Homo sapiens: one gene and its partner. The protein of the gene in region 1 purifies or fractionates together with the protein of each later gene. This does not show direct contact. Each region holds a gene or a part of one and is shown in the gene's direction. Other genes may lie near its edges.

Evidence for each region. The genes of interacting proteins can lie anywhere in the genome.
Region 2: the proteins of ENC1 (region 1) and PLIN5 purify together in Homo sapiens (affinity purification with mass spectrometry; 2 studies listed by BioGRID and IntAct, with this or other methods). This does not show direct contact.

Annotation. Positions count from the first base shown.
Region 1 is NC_000005.10:74,626,066-74,631,372, reverse strand, and holds the end of ENC1 (ectoderm-neural cortex protein 1), read left to right. Parts: intron 1-1,380; 3' UTR 1,381-3,964; downstream 3,965-5,307. UniProt on the Homo sapiens protein: Actin-binding protein involved in the regulation of neuronal process formation and in differentiation of neural crest cells.
Region 2 is NC_000019.10:4,524,396-4,532,882, reverse strand, and holds part of PLIN5 (perilipin-5), read left to right. Parts: intron 1-1,060; coding exon 1,061-1,256; intron 1,257-3,016; coding exon 3,017-3,099; intron 3,100-3,629; coding exon 3,630-3,810; intron 3,811-7,050; coding exon 7,051-7,250; intron 7,251-7,806; coding exon 7,807-7,920; intron 7,921-8,487. UniProt on the Homo sapiens protein: Lipid droplet-associated protein that maintains the balance between lipogenesis and lipolysis and also regulates fatty acid oxidation in oxidative tissues.

The DNA of each region.
Region 1 (5,307 bases):
CCCTAGGTCTTAAAGCTCATCCACCTAGGAGGTTTTATCTGCCTCCTGCTGCTCTGCCAGTGGGTGGGAAGGGCAGAAAGGAAATTACTTTGATTATCCTCTGTTTTCATGGTGCCGTGTGGCCTCAACCTAACTTAGGCTTTGATTTGCTTTGTTTCTTCTCTAGATTTTGTTGTTGTTGTTGTTGTTGTGTGTCCTTTTTTTTTTTATTATCGTTCCTGTTTGAATATGCAATTTTTTGGGGGGAGGGTGTGTGTATTCCTTTTTTCCTGTTTGAATATGCATTGTCTTGAAATTTTATATTATTATAAGATACATTCTTTTGGCCTAATGTTGACATATAGGTTACAAGGAGGTGGAGGTGGGGCAATGACACCGTAGTCTAAGGCATGCCTTGAAAGCTTGAATCACTGTTAGGAAACAGCCAAAAGAAACAACTCATGAAATGAATCAGGCTTCTGAACACACAAAAGCAAAGAATTCAGTGCAAGGTCATGAGTGGCTCCTCCAGAATTCCCTTTGTCTGTACTTAGACTTACAGCAATAGGGATACAAAAGCCCTCTGCACAATTTCCCCAGATGAAATGAGAAATAAATAAATGGGAAGAGTAAGCAGTGTGAGGAAATGCAAGCTCTATGAAATGTGCAGGCTTTGTGGTTACGGCACTTTGAATTGATATTCACACTTGATGTACGTAGATTCTGTAGCACTGGCATGCCGTAGCTGCTGGCACCTACGTGTGGACTGACGAACTTTGAGAATAAACTCCAAACTTGGGCTGTTGAGGCCTGATACATTGTCATGTGAAAGGAAGCGAGACTGATTTCTGCCATAATGGATAACAGAGATGCATTTAAATAAGAGGATTAGTATGTCTGCCTCCTAGATGGTAAAGTTAATTTGGAATCTTTCATGGTACATGGGCCAAGGAGGGTTTGCACAGGAATCTCCCTTCTTTTCACCCCTTAGTGATCACTTTACAGTCGCTCTGTTTAACCACAGAAAGAAATTTTATGAATGTTGGAAGCAGAAGATGGCAACTCCTAATAGCATCTAGACATATAGGTTTGGATTTGAAAGTGTGTATGCTTAGGAAAGAAGTGAAGGTCCTTCTTTAGACACCACTGTTTTTGTCAGGCCAGCCATCTGCATGGATGTGTACGTGCACACGTGTGTGCATTTAAGGCAAGTACTTTAAATATCTTTGCACAGTTCCTACTGAACATGTAAGACCTTTGGAAGCAATATTGTCCAGCTCCATACCAAGTTTAATTTAAAAAAAAATTTTGTGGCTAATAAGAAAAATTTAAAAACTATGGCATCACACAAATCCTTCATGCTTTTTTGTTTTGTTTTTTTTCCTTTTCCTTCTATTTCAGCTCACTCCATCACTCGATGAGATAATATGAGATTTCTACTTCGGAGAGGCCAAGTCTAATGAAGAGAAAAAAAGGAAAAGAAGTTGCAAGACTCGAATAAAATCTGCTGCACCTTGTAAATGCTCTAACTGGACATGAAGGAAAGGGGCGAGGGAGGGGGGTGGGATTTTTGGTGCAAGTAGCACATGGTTTAAATATGAATGAACAAACCTGTGATCTAGTCCTTGTCTTGTAATTGTGGATTAATGTCAATGTTAATCAGCCCCTCAAAGGGAGAGAAAAGCTGGACCTTTTCCCTTGCTGTACCATATTCAGCATTTGATTTCCATGGGCCCCACCATTTATGTGTAGAATTTGAAATGGTTGTCACCTCTCTCTGAGGACAGAGCTTGAAGCCTCCACACCAGCTGCTGCTGGAGATTCAAAGCCCAACTGTGGGTCCGAGAGGGAAGCTGGCTGGGCTGGCTGAAGAATGAAGACCACTGGACTCTCCGTTAATCTCTAAGGGGTCTGCTCCCCAGGAACGTTTCTGAACAATGGGGACTTTGTTGGTAGCCATTTGGTAGATGTTCTTTTCTATTTATAAGTGACTTTAAACTTTCCCTTGGCTGTTAAGAAGTTTGTTATAGATTTAGCTATTTATTGTTCGATGCCTGCATGCTGAAACAATGCCTACAGCTGTCTTCACATGTATGGACGTGTGTGAATGGTTGTACGTTTTGCACATTTTGTGGCTGTTGAGATGTGCTTTGCTGCACAAACATGAAAATTTTTGAGTTACAATTTGGAGCATAACTGGAGGGTGGGTTGGGGAGGGGTGGATTTTTAAAATGTCAAGACAGGGAAGGATGACAAAATGGAAATTTAAATGACATCCTAGAGGTAGAGAAACCGTGGAGATCGCTTTTCTCAGACTCACCAACTTTTAATGGGATTTCATGGGGTTTGGTTGTGCTGATAGGGTAAGGGGAGGCTGCTTTCTGCCCTTCTCCCCACTCCCATCTGATTTACTTAATTCAGTCTCAGCTGCTGAAATTTGGAAAGGACCAAATTGCTTTACAGTTTTTTTCTTTGTGTAGTATCTTGAAATCCTGGAAAATTCTATGGAATAGTTCTGTATATAGGGCACAAGTAAAGGCATTGTCCAAAGTTTATTTATTTATTTATTACCCTAAGAATGCTTTGCCATAACCACATTTAATGGGAAAAACGGCAGTATCACAGATGTAAATTAACTCACCAGATTTACTGGGCCTGAACTCATTCTCTTCTTGCTATATGATTTAGCAAGTTCTAGAAGGTCTCCAAGACAATAATTACATTGGCACAATGTATACTTCAGTGCTCACCCGTAGGCAAATCTCTTTTTAAAAAACTCTTTGGTGCACAAGTAACACATTTGGCCACAAAACACCAAAGAATTGTAGGCAGTGGCCCCTATTGAGAAGTTTTCCGGTAGAGTTGGAAATCAGTTGTGAATACATTCTTTGCTAGTTGGAGTGCTTGTTTACTAAGCATGTGCCGTCGTAGGTATTAGTGCTAGTCTCAGATAGGTGCTTCCCCTGAGGTGCAGGGGAAGACCAAAGTTTGCAACTCGAACTGCTTTCGTCCATGTTTCTCACATTGCTGTATTTTAGAAAATAGGGGTTAAGACTGATAACAACCTTTTACATTGTGACTGTGTTTGCATTGTCTAATGACAGATAAATCCTTAACATTTCTCTCCACCTTAGTACTTTAGACTAATTGTGTTTGTCCGTCCATGCCATGAATGAGTGGGCTGTAGTTGGGCCTAAATAAATGAGCTGTTGGAAGAAAAGAATCACAGTACTTTCCAGCAGTCAGTCCCTGGTTCCTAGATGTGTTCTAAGCAATGCAAATGTCTAATTGTCCCCCAGTGGGCATAGTCAGTGTCGTTTATATTGTAGCAGTTACAGCTCTGTAGTTTATGATGCAAATCTGCCAAGAGAGATGTATGTGTCACTGCATGGCTTCTGAAAGCAGGATGAATTTTCTGCAGCTGTTTCAAAGTTGGGGTCTGTTCTTGAATCCTCTATTAATTACTGTGTGTGAGCCAGAGGGAGCTGTGGTAAGGGTTGGGCCCCCAGCCTGTAGGGAACTTTCTGGACTCCCACTCTTTGAATCGATATAGGCATTTGGTCTCACTACTTGACCATTCTCACCCTGTGAAACGTCCCACACTTTGAAGCAAATACAATTCACAGCACAGTACACACAAAAACCTTGGCATAAGACAGAGAAGGTTCTTCTTATTTTGTGGGCTGGTTGCTGTAGAAACACATAACAAAGGGCAGCCCTCCACTTCTGGTATAATTGTGTAGCCCCTTTTCTTTGGGCTTGACACCTGTCTTGAATAAGAGTGATTAGAGCTGCATAATGTCCCTCTCTTGGCTATTGACCATGTGGTTCACGTACAAAACTCTGTATAAGTTGAAGGAAAATGTTCATGTTCATATGTACTTGTTTGCTATGACTACATTTTGAGGTTTTGTAAAACTGTTATTTTTTTTTTTTTCACAATGTGAAACTGAAGGTCAATAAATTATTAGAGATTTTCTCTTCATTATGTGTGTGGGTCTTCATTTGAATAAGACACAATTTGAGGCATTGTAAACGTGTGCCTTTTCTCGTTTATCCAAAGAAGGATCATTTCAGATATTCCGAACGTGTTTTATTTCACCATTTAGTGATATTTACAAAGGTAATTTTGCATATTAAATAAAACTTCCTGACCATTAGAGTATCTCTTTAAGCAAGACAAAATTCCTCATTTATGGGTTATTCATAGCTGGGAATATAACAAGTCACACACCATGCGATATTAAGACAGCATACTTTATATTGGAATGAATTTAGTTTTTTGAAATCCTCACGTGGGTTATATTTTGACAGAAAGCTGTTAGAGAAGGAGCTGGAGTTCAATCCTCTTTTCATCTGCTGACATCTGCTTTAGAAATCATTTAAAGTGGAAATATATGCATATTATTTCTGTACTGCCACAGAAAAGCACAAGTTTAACCCCTCAGGGATACTTAGTTTGTTCCAAGCTGATGGCTGTCCTAGCTGGCTCTGCATAAGGCCAGTTGAAGCCTCCTGCCCCTACCTCATGATGGCTTCATGTCACACTGAGATGCTCCTTTATCACTTGGGTTGGAACCCTTATTGTTTCAGTGTGCAGAGCAAGGTTGGGCATAACCTTTTCTGGGTAGAAAATAAATATTACCTAATTGGGAACTCTAGGAGAGCTCACAAGTAGGCATAATGCAATTACAGCCTTTGGACTTTGACCAAGATGCCAGAGCAGATGCCTTGGGTTTGACAGGAGGATCATTCGGTTCTGTGCTGTGTGAGGCTGGTCTAGAGCCAAGCCTTTGGGGACCAGTGTCAGCCTTCAGATTCCAAGTGCATGATGTTGAAGACCCGTGGAAACCCTGTTGATGACACCATATGGATGACACCAAATGACAGGGAAGAACGGCGGGTTAGTTAGGAGTTGACGGATGGGATTTAGACTCAGGAAAAAGTCTTGATGTTAATCCCTAGAGGGGTTGAGAATGGTTCCTGTAGACATGATTGTGAACAGATCTTTCATTCTCTGGAGTTGTTTCTCTTTATCATCTCAGTCGGAACATGTAGACAGATTAAAAAGATACTTCAAATTCTTAATTTTCATTCATTTGGAAATTTCATTTCATTTAGATAGATCACACCAAACAGTAGCTATGGTAATAAAAATCTGGCCACAGTAGGCAAACGGGTTGGAGGTCGGCAGTCCAGGGCCGGGACAGCACCCCCATGAGGCCATCAGGCCTCATGCTTGCAGGATGGCAGCTGCATCTCATGGCATCTCATCTGCTTTCCAGGCAGCAAAAGTGGGGCAGACAAAGGGGAAAGGGCTCAGGCCAG
Region 2 (8,487 bases), on another chromosome or scaffold:
AGCATGGGCAACACAGCAAGACCCAATCTCTATAAAATAAAATAAAATTAGCTGGGCACAGTGGTGTGCACCTGTAATCCCAGGTACTTGGAAACTGAGGTTGGAGGATTGCTTGAGGCTAGGAGGCTTAGGCTGCAGTGAGCCGTGCTTGAATCACTGCCCTCTAGCCTGGCCAACAGAGCAAGACCTTGTCTCTATTGAAAACAAAAAAATTGTGACCAGGTGCAATGGCTCAGGCCTGTAATCCTAGCACTTTGGGAGGCTGAGGTGGGTGGATCACCTGAGGTGGGTGGATCACCTGAGGTCGGGAGTTCGACACCAGCCTGGTCAACATAGTGAAACCCTGTTTCTACTAAAAATAAAAATAAAAACAAAATTGGCTGGGCGCGGTGGCTCACGCCTGTAATCCCTGCACTTTGGGAGGCCAAGGCAGGTGGATCACCTGAGGTCGGTAGTTTGAGACCAGCCTGACCAATGTGGAGAAACCCCATCTCTACTAAAAATACACAAACAAAACAAACAAAAAAAACGGGTATGGTGGCGCATGCCTGTAATTCCAGCTCCTCGGGAGGCTGAGGCAGGAGAATCACTTGAACCCGGGAGGCGGAGGTTGCGCTGAGCCGAGATCGTGCCACTGCACTCCAGCCTGGGCGATAGAGCGAGACTCCCTCTTATAATATAATTGCCAGGTGTGGTGGCGGGCACCTGTAATCCCAGCTACTTGGGAGGCTGAGGCAGGAGAATCGTTTGAATCCAGGAGGAGGTTGCCGTGAGCCGAGATGGTGCCACTGCACTCCAGCCTGGGTGATAAGAGTGAAACCCCATTACAAACAAAATTGTAATGCTCTGTGTACGCCATGGGAAGAGGAGCCTGTGAGTGCAGGAACCATGACATTCTCACATCCACGTTTATCTTCACTGCCTCTACGTGGCGGGGTGCTCAGTACTCCATCCTTCCACTCTCCCATCCCTCGTCCTGGCCCAGAGAGGGGAAGTAGGTTGAGGTGTGGCTAGGGCCCCACTTCCCCCAGGGTCCCCCTGATGCCGACCCTTCCCGCAGAACGTGGTGCAGCGTGTGGTGGCTCTGCCCCTGGTCAGGGCCACGTGCACCGCGGTCTGCGATGTTTACAGTGCAGCCAAGGACAGGCACCCGCTGCTGGGCTCCGCCTGCCGCCTGGCTGAGAACTGCGTGTGCGGCCTGACCACCCGTGCCCTGGACCACGCCCAGCCGCTGCTCGAGCACCTGCAGCCCCAGCGTGAGTGCCCTGGCCCGTGTCCCTGGGAGCTGTGGCTTGCCACCCCCCCACCGCCCCCTGTCCCATCCTCCTTGGTCTATCTGCATGACACTCCTGGGGGTCATCTTCAGCCTAGCCACCTGTCCCACTGCCATGCCACCTGTCCTCAATCTCTTCACTTAAGTCCTTCTTTAATCTGATCACCAGCCAGGCATGGTGGCTCATGCCTATGATCCCAGCACTTTGGGAGGCCGAGGAAGGAGGATCACTTGAGGCCAGGAGTTCAAGACCAGCCAGAGCAACGTAGCGAGACCCTGTATCTCAAAAAAAAAATTTTTTTTTTAAATCTGGCTGGGTGTGGTGGCTCATGCCTGTAATCCCAGCACTTCGTGAGGCTGAGGCGGTTGGATCACAAGGTCAGAAGTTTAAGACCAGCCTGGACAACATAGTGAAACCCTGTCTCTACTAAAAATACAAAACTTGGCCCGGTGTGGTGGCACATAACTGTAATCCTAGCTACTCAGGAGGCTCATGCAGGAGAATTGCTTGAACCCGGGAGGCAGAAGTTGCAGTCAGCCAAGACCGCACCATTGCGCTCCAGCCTGGGCAACAGAGTGAGACTCCATTTCAAAAAAAAAAAAGCAAAAACAAACAAAAAAAACTGATCCCCTGATAGGTGCGGTGGCTCATGCCTGTAATCCCAGTATTTTAGGAGTCCGAGGCAGGCAGATCACTCACTTGAGGTCAGGAGTTCGAGAACAGCCTGGCCAACATGGTGAAACCCCAACTCTACTAAAAATACAAAAAATTATCCAGGCGTGGTGGAGGGCGCCTGTAATCCCAGCTGCATGGGAGGCTGAGGCAGGAGAATCGCTTGAACCTGGGAGGCAGGGGATGCAGCAAGCCGAGATCGCACCACTGCACTCCAGCCTGGGTGACAGAGCTAGACTCTGTCTCAAAATAAATAAATAAATCTGATCCCCTGGCCCTCTGCCCTTACCTGTTTACTGGTGGGGCCCCTCCTCTCTGTCCCTATCCATCTGTCTCCCTGTGTCCCCTCCTTTGTTGGCCTGATGTGCCTTGGGTCCATTTGTCTCTCCAGGCCCCCTCCCCTCTGCACCTGCCTCTGCCTGTCCTAAGCCCCGCAGCCTCCGCTCTGTAGTTCTCACATCTCTGTGGACCCCTGAGCCGATGACAGGCGGGGGACTACAGGATCCTTGGCCTCTAGTCTGACCCAGGAAGAGGGTCACCTGAGGGTCCTAGCCCAGCACCTCCTCACCTCCCTCTCAGCCAGCTTCTGTGACCTTGAGTCTGTCCGCTGGGCCATCTGAGCTGGGCACGGCTGAAAAGTCGCCTTGGTGCTGGGAGAACAGGGTGGGTGGCAGGGCCCAGGCAGGATGGCAGAGGAGGCAGTGCCCAACCCAGCGGCCTACCCACACCCTCAGGGCCCCCAGTCTCACCTAGGGAGGCAGCCAGGTCCCCCTGTGGTCTAGGCCTTCTCCCCATCTCCCTCGTAGACTCTCTCTCCAGGCGCCACAGGTGTCTGCCCCAGCGTCTTTGGTGTAAGCGGCTTCTTGGTGTAAGGTCTCAGAAAGCCTGTCCATCTCCTGGTGTGGGTCTCGTCTCCATCATTCCGTTTTGTTTCTCCCTGTCTTATCCTGGTCTCCTTCCTTCTCTGTCTCTGCTTCTCTCTCTAGCATTCCCTCCTTCTACAACTCTCACTGCGTCCCTATCTCCCTCTGCGTCTCCCCGAGTCTCACTCCCCGCCTCTCTCCCTTCAGTGGCCACTATGAACAGCCTCGCCTGCAGGGGCCTGGACAAGCTGGAAGAGAAGCTTCCCTTTCTCCAGCAACCTTCGGAGACGGTACCCCGGACGACTAGACATGGGGACCTCCAGTGGGGGCAGGCCAGATTAGAGGCGGGAGGGAGGGAGGGATGGTGACAACCAGGCTTTTAGTTAACTCAAGAAAAAACAGCCAGGTTAAAATAACTGCAACGTGTGTGTGTGTGTGTGTGTGTGTGTGTGTGTGTGTGTGTATACATATATGTATATACGTATAGTGTATATATGTATATATACGTATAAGTATATATGTATATATACGTATAAGTATATATGTATATGTGTATATATACATGTATATATGTATATGTGTGTATATGTGTATATATGTATATGTATGTGTGTATACATATGTATTGCTAGTAAGGGCAGTTAACTCCCTCAACACCCTCTGTGAGGGAAGGGTTTTATCACCCATTTTATAGGGGAAACTGAGGCACGGAGCCAGGTAGAAGTCCAGGGATCTTTGAGTCCCAGCCCCAGGGAACTAGGGTGGCAGAAATGGAGCTGGAGTCCCACGGTGCCTGGAGTGGGGGGGCCCTTCCTTCCAGGTGGTGACCTCAGCCAAGGACGTGGTGGCCAGCAGTGTCACGGGTGTGGTGGACCTGGCCCGGAGGGGCCGGCGCTGGAGCGTGGAGCTGAAGCGCTCCGTGAGCCATGCTGTGGATGTTGTACTGGAAAAATCAGAGGAGCTGGTGGATCACTTCCTGCCCATGACGGAGGAAGAGCTCGGTGAGGACGACACCCTCAACCCTAACCCCTGAGTCCTGCCCCGTCCCCATCCCCTGTGGTACAGATCAGAGAGGTCTGAGACTCACCCAAGGTCACACAGCAGATCAGCAGGAAACATACAACTCAAAACCAGGCCTGTCCTCCCTCCCGGTCACTTCCACGGCCCCTCAACCTGCATCCCGCCAGGAGTCAGAACACCCAGACCCTAAGGGCATATAGGGCTTTTAGACTTGAGGTCCCAAACTGGTGGCCCCCAAATGCCTGTGCAGCGTGTTTTAAATATTTTCATTCTTTGCATGCATTTAACAACCAGATTTTGCATTACATGTCCCGATTCTTGGCTTGTTTTGAAAAACCAGACACACTGCCAGGCACAGTGGCTCACGCCTGTAATCTCAGCACTTTGGGAGGCCAAGGTGGGCAGATCATGAGGTCAGGAGTTCGAGCCCAGCCTGGCCAACATAGTGAAATCCCGTCTCTACTAAAAATACAAAAAATTAGCCAGGCGTGGTGGCGTGTGCCTGTATTCCCAGATACTCGGGAGGCTGAGGCAGGAGAATCACTTGAACCTGGGAGGTGGAGGTTGCAATGAGCTGAGATCGCGCTATTGCACTCCAGCCCAGGCCACAGTGCGAGACTCCGTTTCAAAAAAAAAAAAAGAAAAACTAGACACAGCCAGAATATTGTCTGCTCCTTCAGATGGTTTGCTCAGCTCCACTAGTCCCCAGTGGTTTATGTCATATCTACTTTGATGGTTTTTGGTACCTGCCTGGCCCTGGAGACCATGTGAATGTCCAACTCTGGCCTTACAGTACTGGAAGAATGTATGGGCTTACCCCCACCTCAGCAGAAAAGCAGGGAGGCGGCCGGGCACGGTGGCTCAGGCCTGTAATCCCAGCACTTTGGGGGGCCGAGGCGGGCCGATCACGAGGTCAGGAGATCGAGACCATCCTGGCTCACACGGTGAAACCCCGTCTCTACTAAAAATACAAAAAATTAGCCGGGCGTGGTGGCGGGCGCCTGTAGTCCCAGCTACTCAGGAGGCTGAGGCAGGAGAATGGCGTGAACCCGGGGGGTGGAGCTTGCAGTGAGCAGAGATCGCACCACTGCACTTGAGCCTGGGTGACAGAGCGAGACTCTATCTCAAAAAAAAAAAAAGGCAGTGAGGCATTGATCAGGCACTTCTTGTGTGCCAGGCACTCCTGAATTTTTTTTTCTTTTTTTTTGAGACAGAATCTCTCACTTTGTTGCCCAGGCTGGAGTGCAGTGTTGCGATCTCAGCTCACTACAGCCTCTGCCTCCCGTGTTCAAGCGATTCTCCGGCCTCAGCCTCCCAAGTAGCTGGGATTACAGGCACCCACCACTACACCCGGCTAATTTTTGTGTATTTAGTAGAGATGGGGTTTTGCATGTTGGCCAAACTCCTGACCTCAGGTGAGCCACCTGCCTTGACTTCCCAAAGTGCTGGGATTACAAGCGTGAGTCCACCACGCCCAACCATTGTTGTTTTTTTTTTTTTTTTTTTTTTTTTTTTGAAGTGGAGTCTCACTCTGTCGCCCAGGCTAGAGTGCAGTGATATGATCTTGGCTCACTGCAGCCTCCGCCTCCTGGGTTCAAGTGATTCTCCTGCCTCATCCTCCTAGACAAATGGAACTAGAGGTGCACACCACCACATCTGGCTGATTTAAAAATTTTTTTTTAGGCCGGGCGCGGTGGCTTACGCCTGTAATCCCAGCACTTTGGGAGGCCGAGGAGGGCAGATCACAAGGTCAGGAGATCGAGACCATCCTGTGAATGGTGAAACCCCGTCTCTACTAAAAATACAAAAAATTGGCCGGGCGTGGTGGCGGGTGCCTGTAGTCCCAGCTACTCAGGAGGCTGAGGTGGGAGAATGGCGTGAACCTGGGAGGTGAAGCTTGCAGTGAGCCGAGATTGCGCCACTGCACTCCAGCCTGGGCAACAGAGCGAGACTCCATCTCAAAAAAAAAAATTTTTTTTCTTAGAGATGGGGTCTTGTTCTGTCACCCAGGCTGGTCTCCAACTCCTGGGCTCAAGTGATCCCCCTGCCTTGGCCTCCCAAAGTGCTGGGATTACAGGCGTGAGCCGCTGTGCCTGGACTATGATATATTCTTTTTATTTTTTTCCACCATATCTTGTGTGGATTTTCTCTTTTTTTATTATTTTTCATTCATTTTTTTAATTTTAATTTTTTTTTGAGATGGAGTCTTGCTCTGTTGCCCAGGCTAGAGGGCAGTGGTGTGATCGTAGCTAACCATAGCCTTCAATTCCTGAGCTCAATTGATCCTCCTGCCTCAGCTTCTCAAGCAGCTGGGACTATAGGCACACGCCACTGTGCCCAGCCCTGGCTAATTTCTGTATTTCTTTTTTAGAGACAGGGTTTTTTGCTGTATTGCCTAAGCTAGTCTCAAAGTAATCCTCCCTGGGCTCAAGCAATCCTCCCATCTCGGCCTCCCAAAGTGCTGGGATTACAAGTGCATGCTGCTGCACCCAACCTATATTTTTAAAAGGCTGCTTAAAAGAATGGTTAAGCAGGCCAGGCATGATGGCTCACACCTGTAAACACAGCACGTTAGGAGGCCAGGCAGGCGGATCAATTGAGCTCAGGAGTTCTAGACCAGCCTGGCCAACATGGTGAAACCCCGTCTCTACTAAAAATACAAAACTTAATCGGGTGTGGTGGTGCACGCCTGTGGTCCCAGCTACTCAAGAGGCTGAGGCAGGAGAATCGCTTGATCCTGGGAGGCAGAGGTTGCAGTGAGCTGGGATAGTGCCACTGCACTCCAGCCTAGGGGACAGAGCGAGACTCCATCTCAAAGAAAAAAAAAATGGTTAAGCAGTTTGGGACCAACGTGCCTGGGTTCCAATCTGGGTCTGCTTCTTGGATCCTGCAGGATCTCACCTCTCCTTTGCCTCAGTTTTCCTCCTGTGTAAAACAGGGCCCACCATAGTGCCTACATCTTAGGGTTTGGGGAAGACCAAATGGGTTGATGTCAGTCAAGGGGAACTGTGAATGTGGGAACCTGTGGCTTCTGTACCCAGAGGTGGGTGAGCAGATGTGGAGGGGGTGGGTGGCTGTGCTGACCCCATGCTGTCCCCGTGCTGTCCCCGTATCCTGTCCCCGTGCTGTCCCCGTATCCTGTCCCCGTGCTGTCCCCGTATCCTGTCCCCGTGCTGTCCCCGTATCCTGTCCCCGTGCTGTCCCCGTATCCTGTCCTCCAGCGGCACTGGCGGCTGAGGCTGAAGGCCCTGAAGTGGGTTCGGTGGAGGATCAGAGGAGACAGCAGGGCTACTTTGTGCGCCTCGGCTCCCTGTCAGCACGGATCCGCCACCTGGCCTACGAGCACTCTGTGGGGAAACTGAGGCAGAGCAAACACCGTGCCCAGGACACCCTGGCCCAGCTGCAGGAGACGCTGGAGCTGGTGAGAGCCCGCTGCCCGCCCCTGCTCCGGGATGCAGGCCAATCAGTATGGATTGAGCACCAGCTGAATACCGGATCCCGTGCTAGCCTAAAGCAGGAGGCGGAGCTGGGTGCAGCTGTCTCCAGCTGCATGTGTTCAGGGCTGGGGGACCCGGGCCTGGAGGAGCCCAGGGATGTCATGGCTCTGCCTGGAGAGTCAGGGAGGGGTTTTGTGGAAGAGGGGAAGGAGAAGCTGGAATTTATAGCAAGTTAGGGTAGGTCAGAAGAGAGCCTTCCTCCTCATCAGAATCCTCCCATCCTCAGCTCTTCCCTCCCCGCAGCAGCCACCAGAGGGCACCTGTGAGCCCCTGAGTCAGGTCTGTCCCTTCTTTACCCACAGCCCTCTATGGCTCCCACCTCCCTTGGGGTCCAAGCCCAAGTCTTCCCCACGGCCCTGCACAACCTGCCTCGGTCTCCTAAATGCTTACTGAGGCCAGATCAGTGGTCCTGGACCCCACCCCGACCCCCAGCTCCCCCAGCTCCCCCAGCTCTGAAGACCACCATTTCTGTCCTTGCAGATAGACCACATGCAGTGTGGGGTGACCCCCACCGCCCCGGCCTGCCCTGGGAAGGTGCACGAGCTGTGGGGGGAATGGGGCCAGCGCCCTCCGGAGAGCCGCCGCCGGAGCCAGGTGAGACCGCAGGAGTGCCAGGTGAGGTGGTGTCTGCCACCAGGCCGCGGAGGAAGAGGGGGAGCGACGGACTGCGGGTCAGCCCAGTACTGCCGGGGACCCAACTCAAGCTATCTCAAACCAAGTGCTGAGCTCAGCTAGTTGAGGTGTCTGGGGGGGGAAACTGAGGCAGGTTTAAGTCCCATTGTGTGTTTTATTTATGTATTTATTTTGAGATGGAGTTTTATTATTTTATTATTTATTTATTTTTGAGATGGAGGGAGGTGGGGGGAAAGGGGGGTGTTGGCCCAAGCAAGCAGTAGTCCCTGGCTTCCCGCCCCTTCTCGCTTTCCCTCCCTCCACATTCTCTCCCTGAACCTATAGCCTAGAAACCATCTCTCCACTTTCCACTTTATTTATATTTATTTATTTGAGAAGGAGTCTGTCTCTGTCGCCCAGGCTGGAGTGCAGTGGCGCGATCTCAGCTCACTGCAACCTCCGCCTCCCGGGTTCAAGCGATTCTCCTGTCTCAGCCTCCTAAGTAGCTGGGACTACAGGTGTCCACCACCACGCCCAGCTAATTTTTGT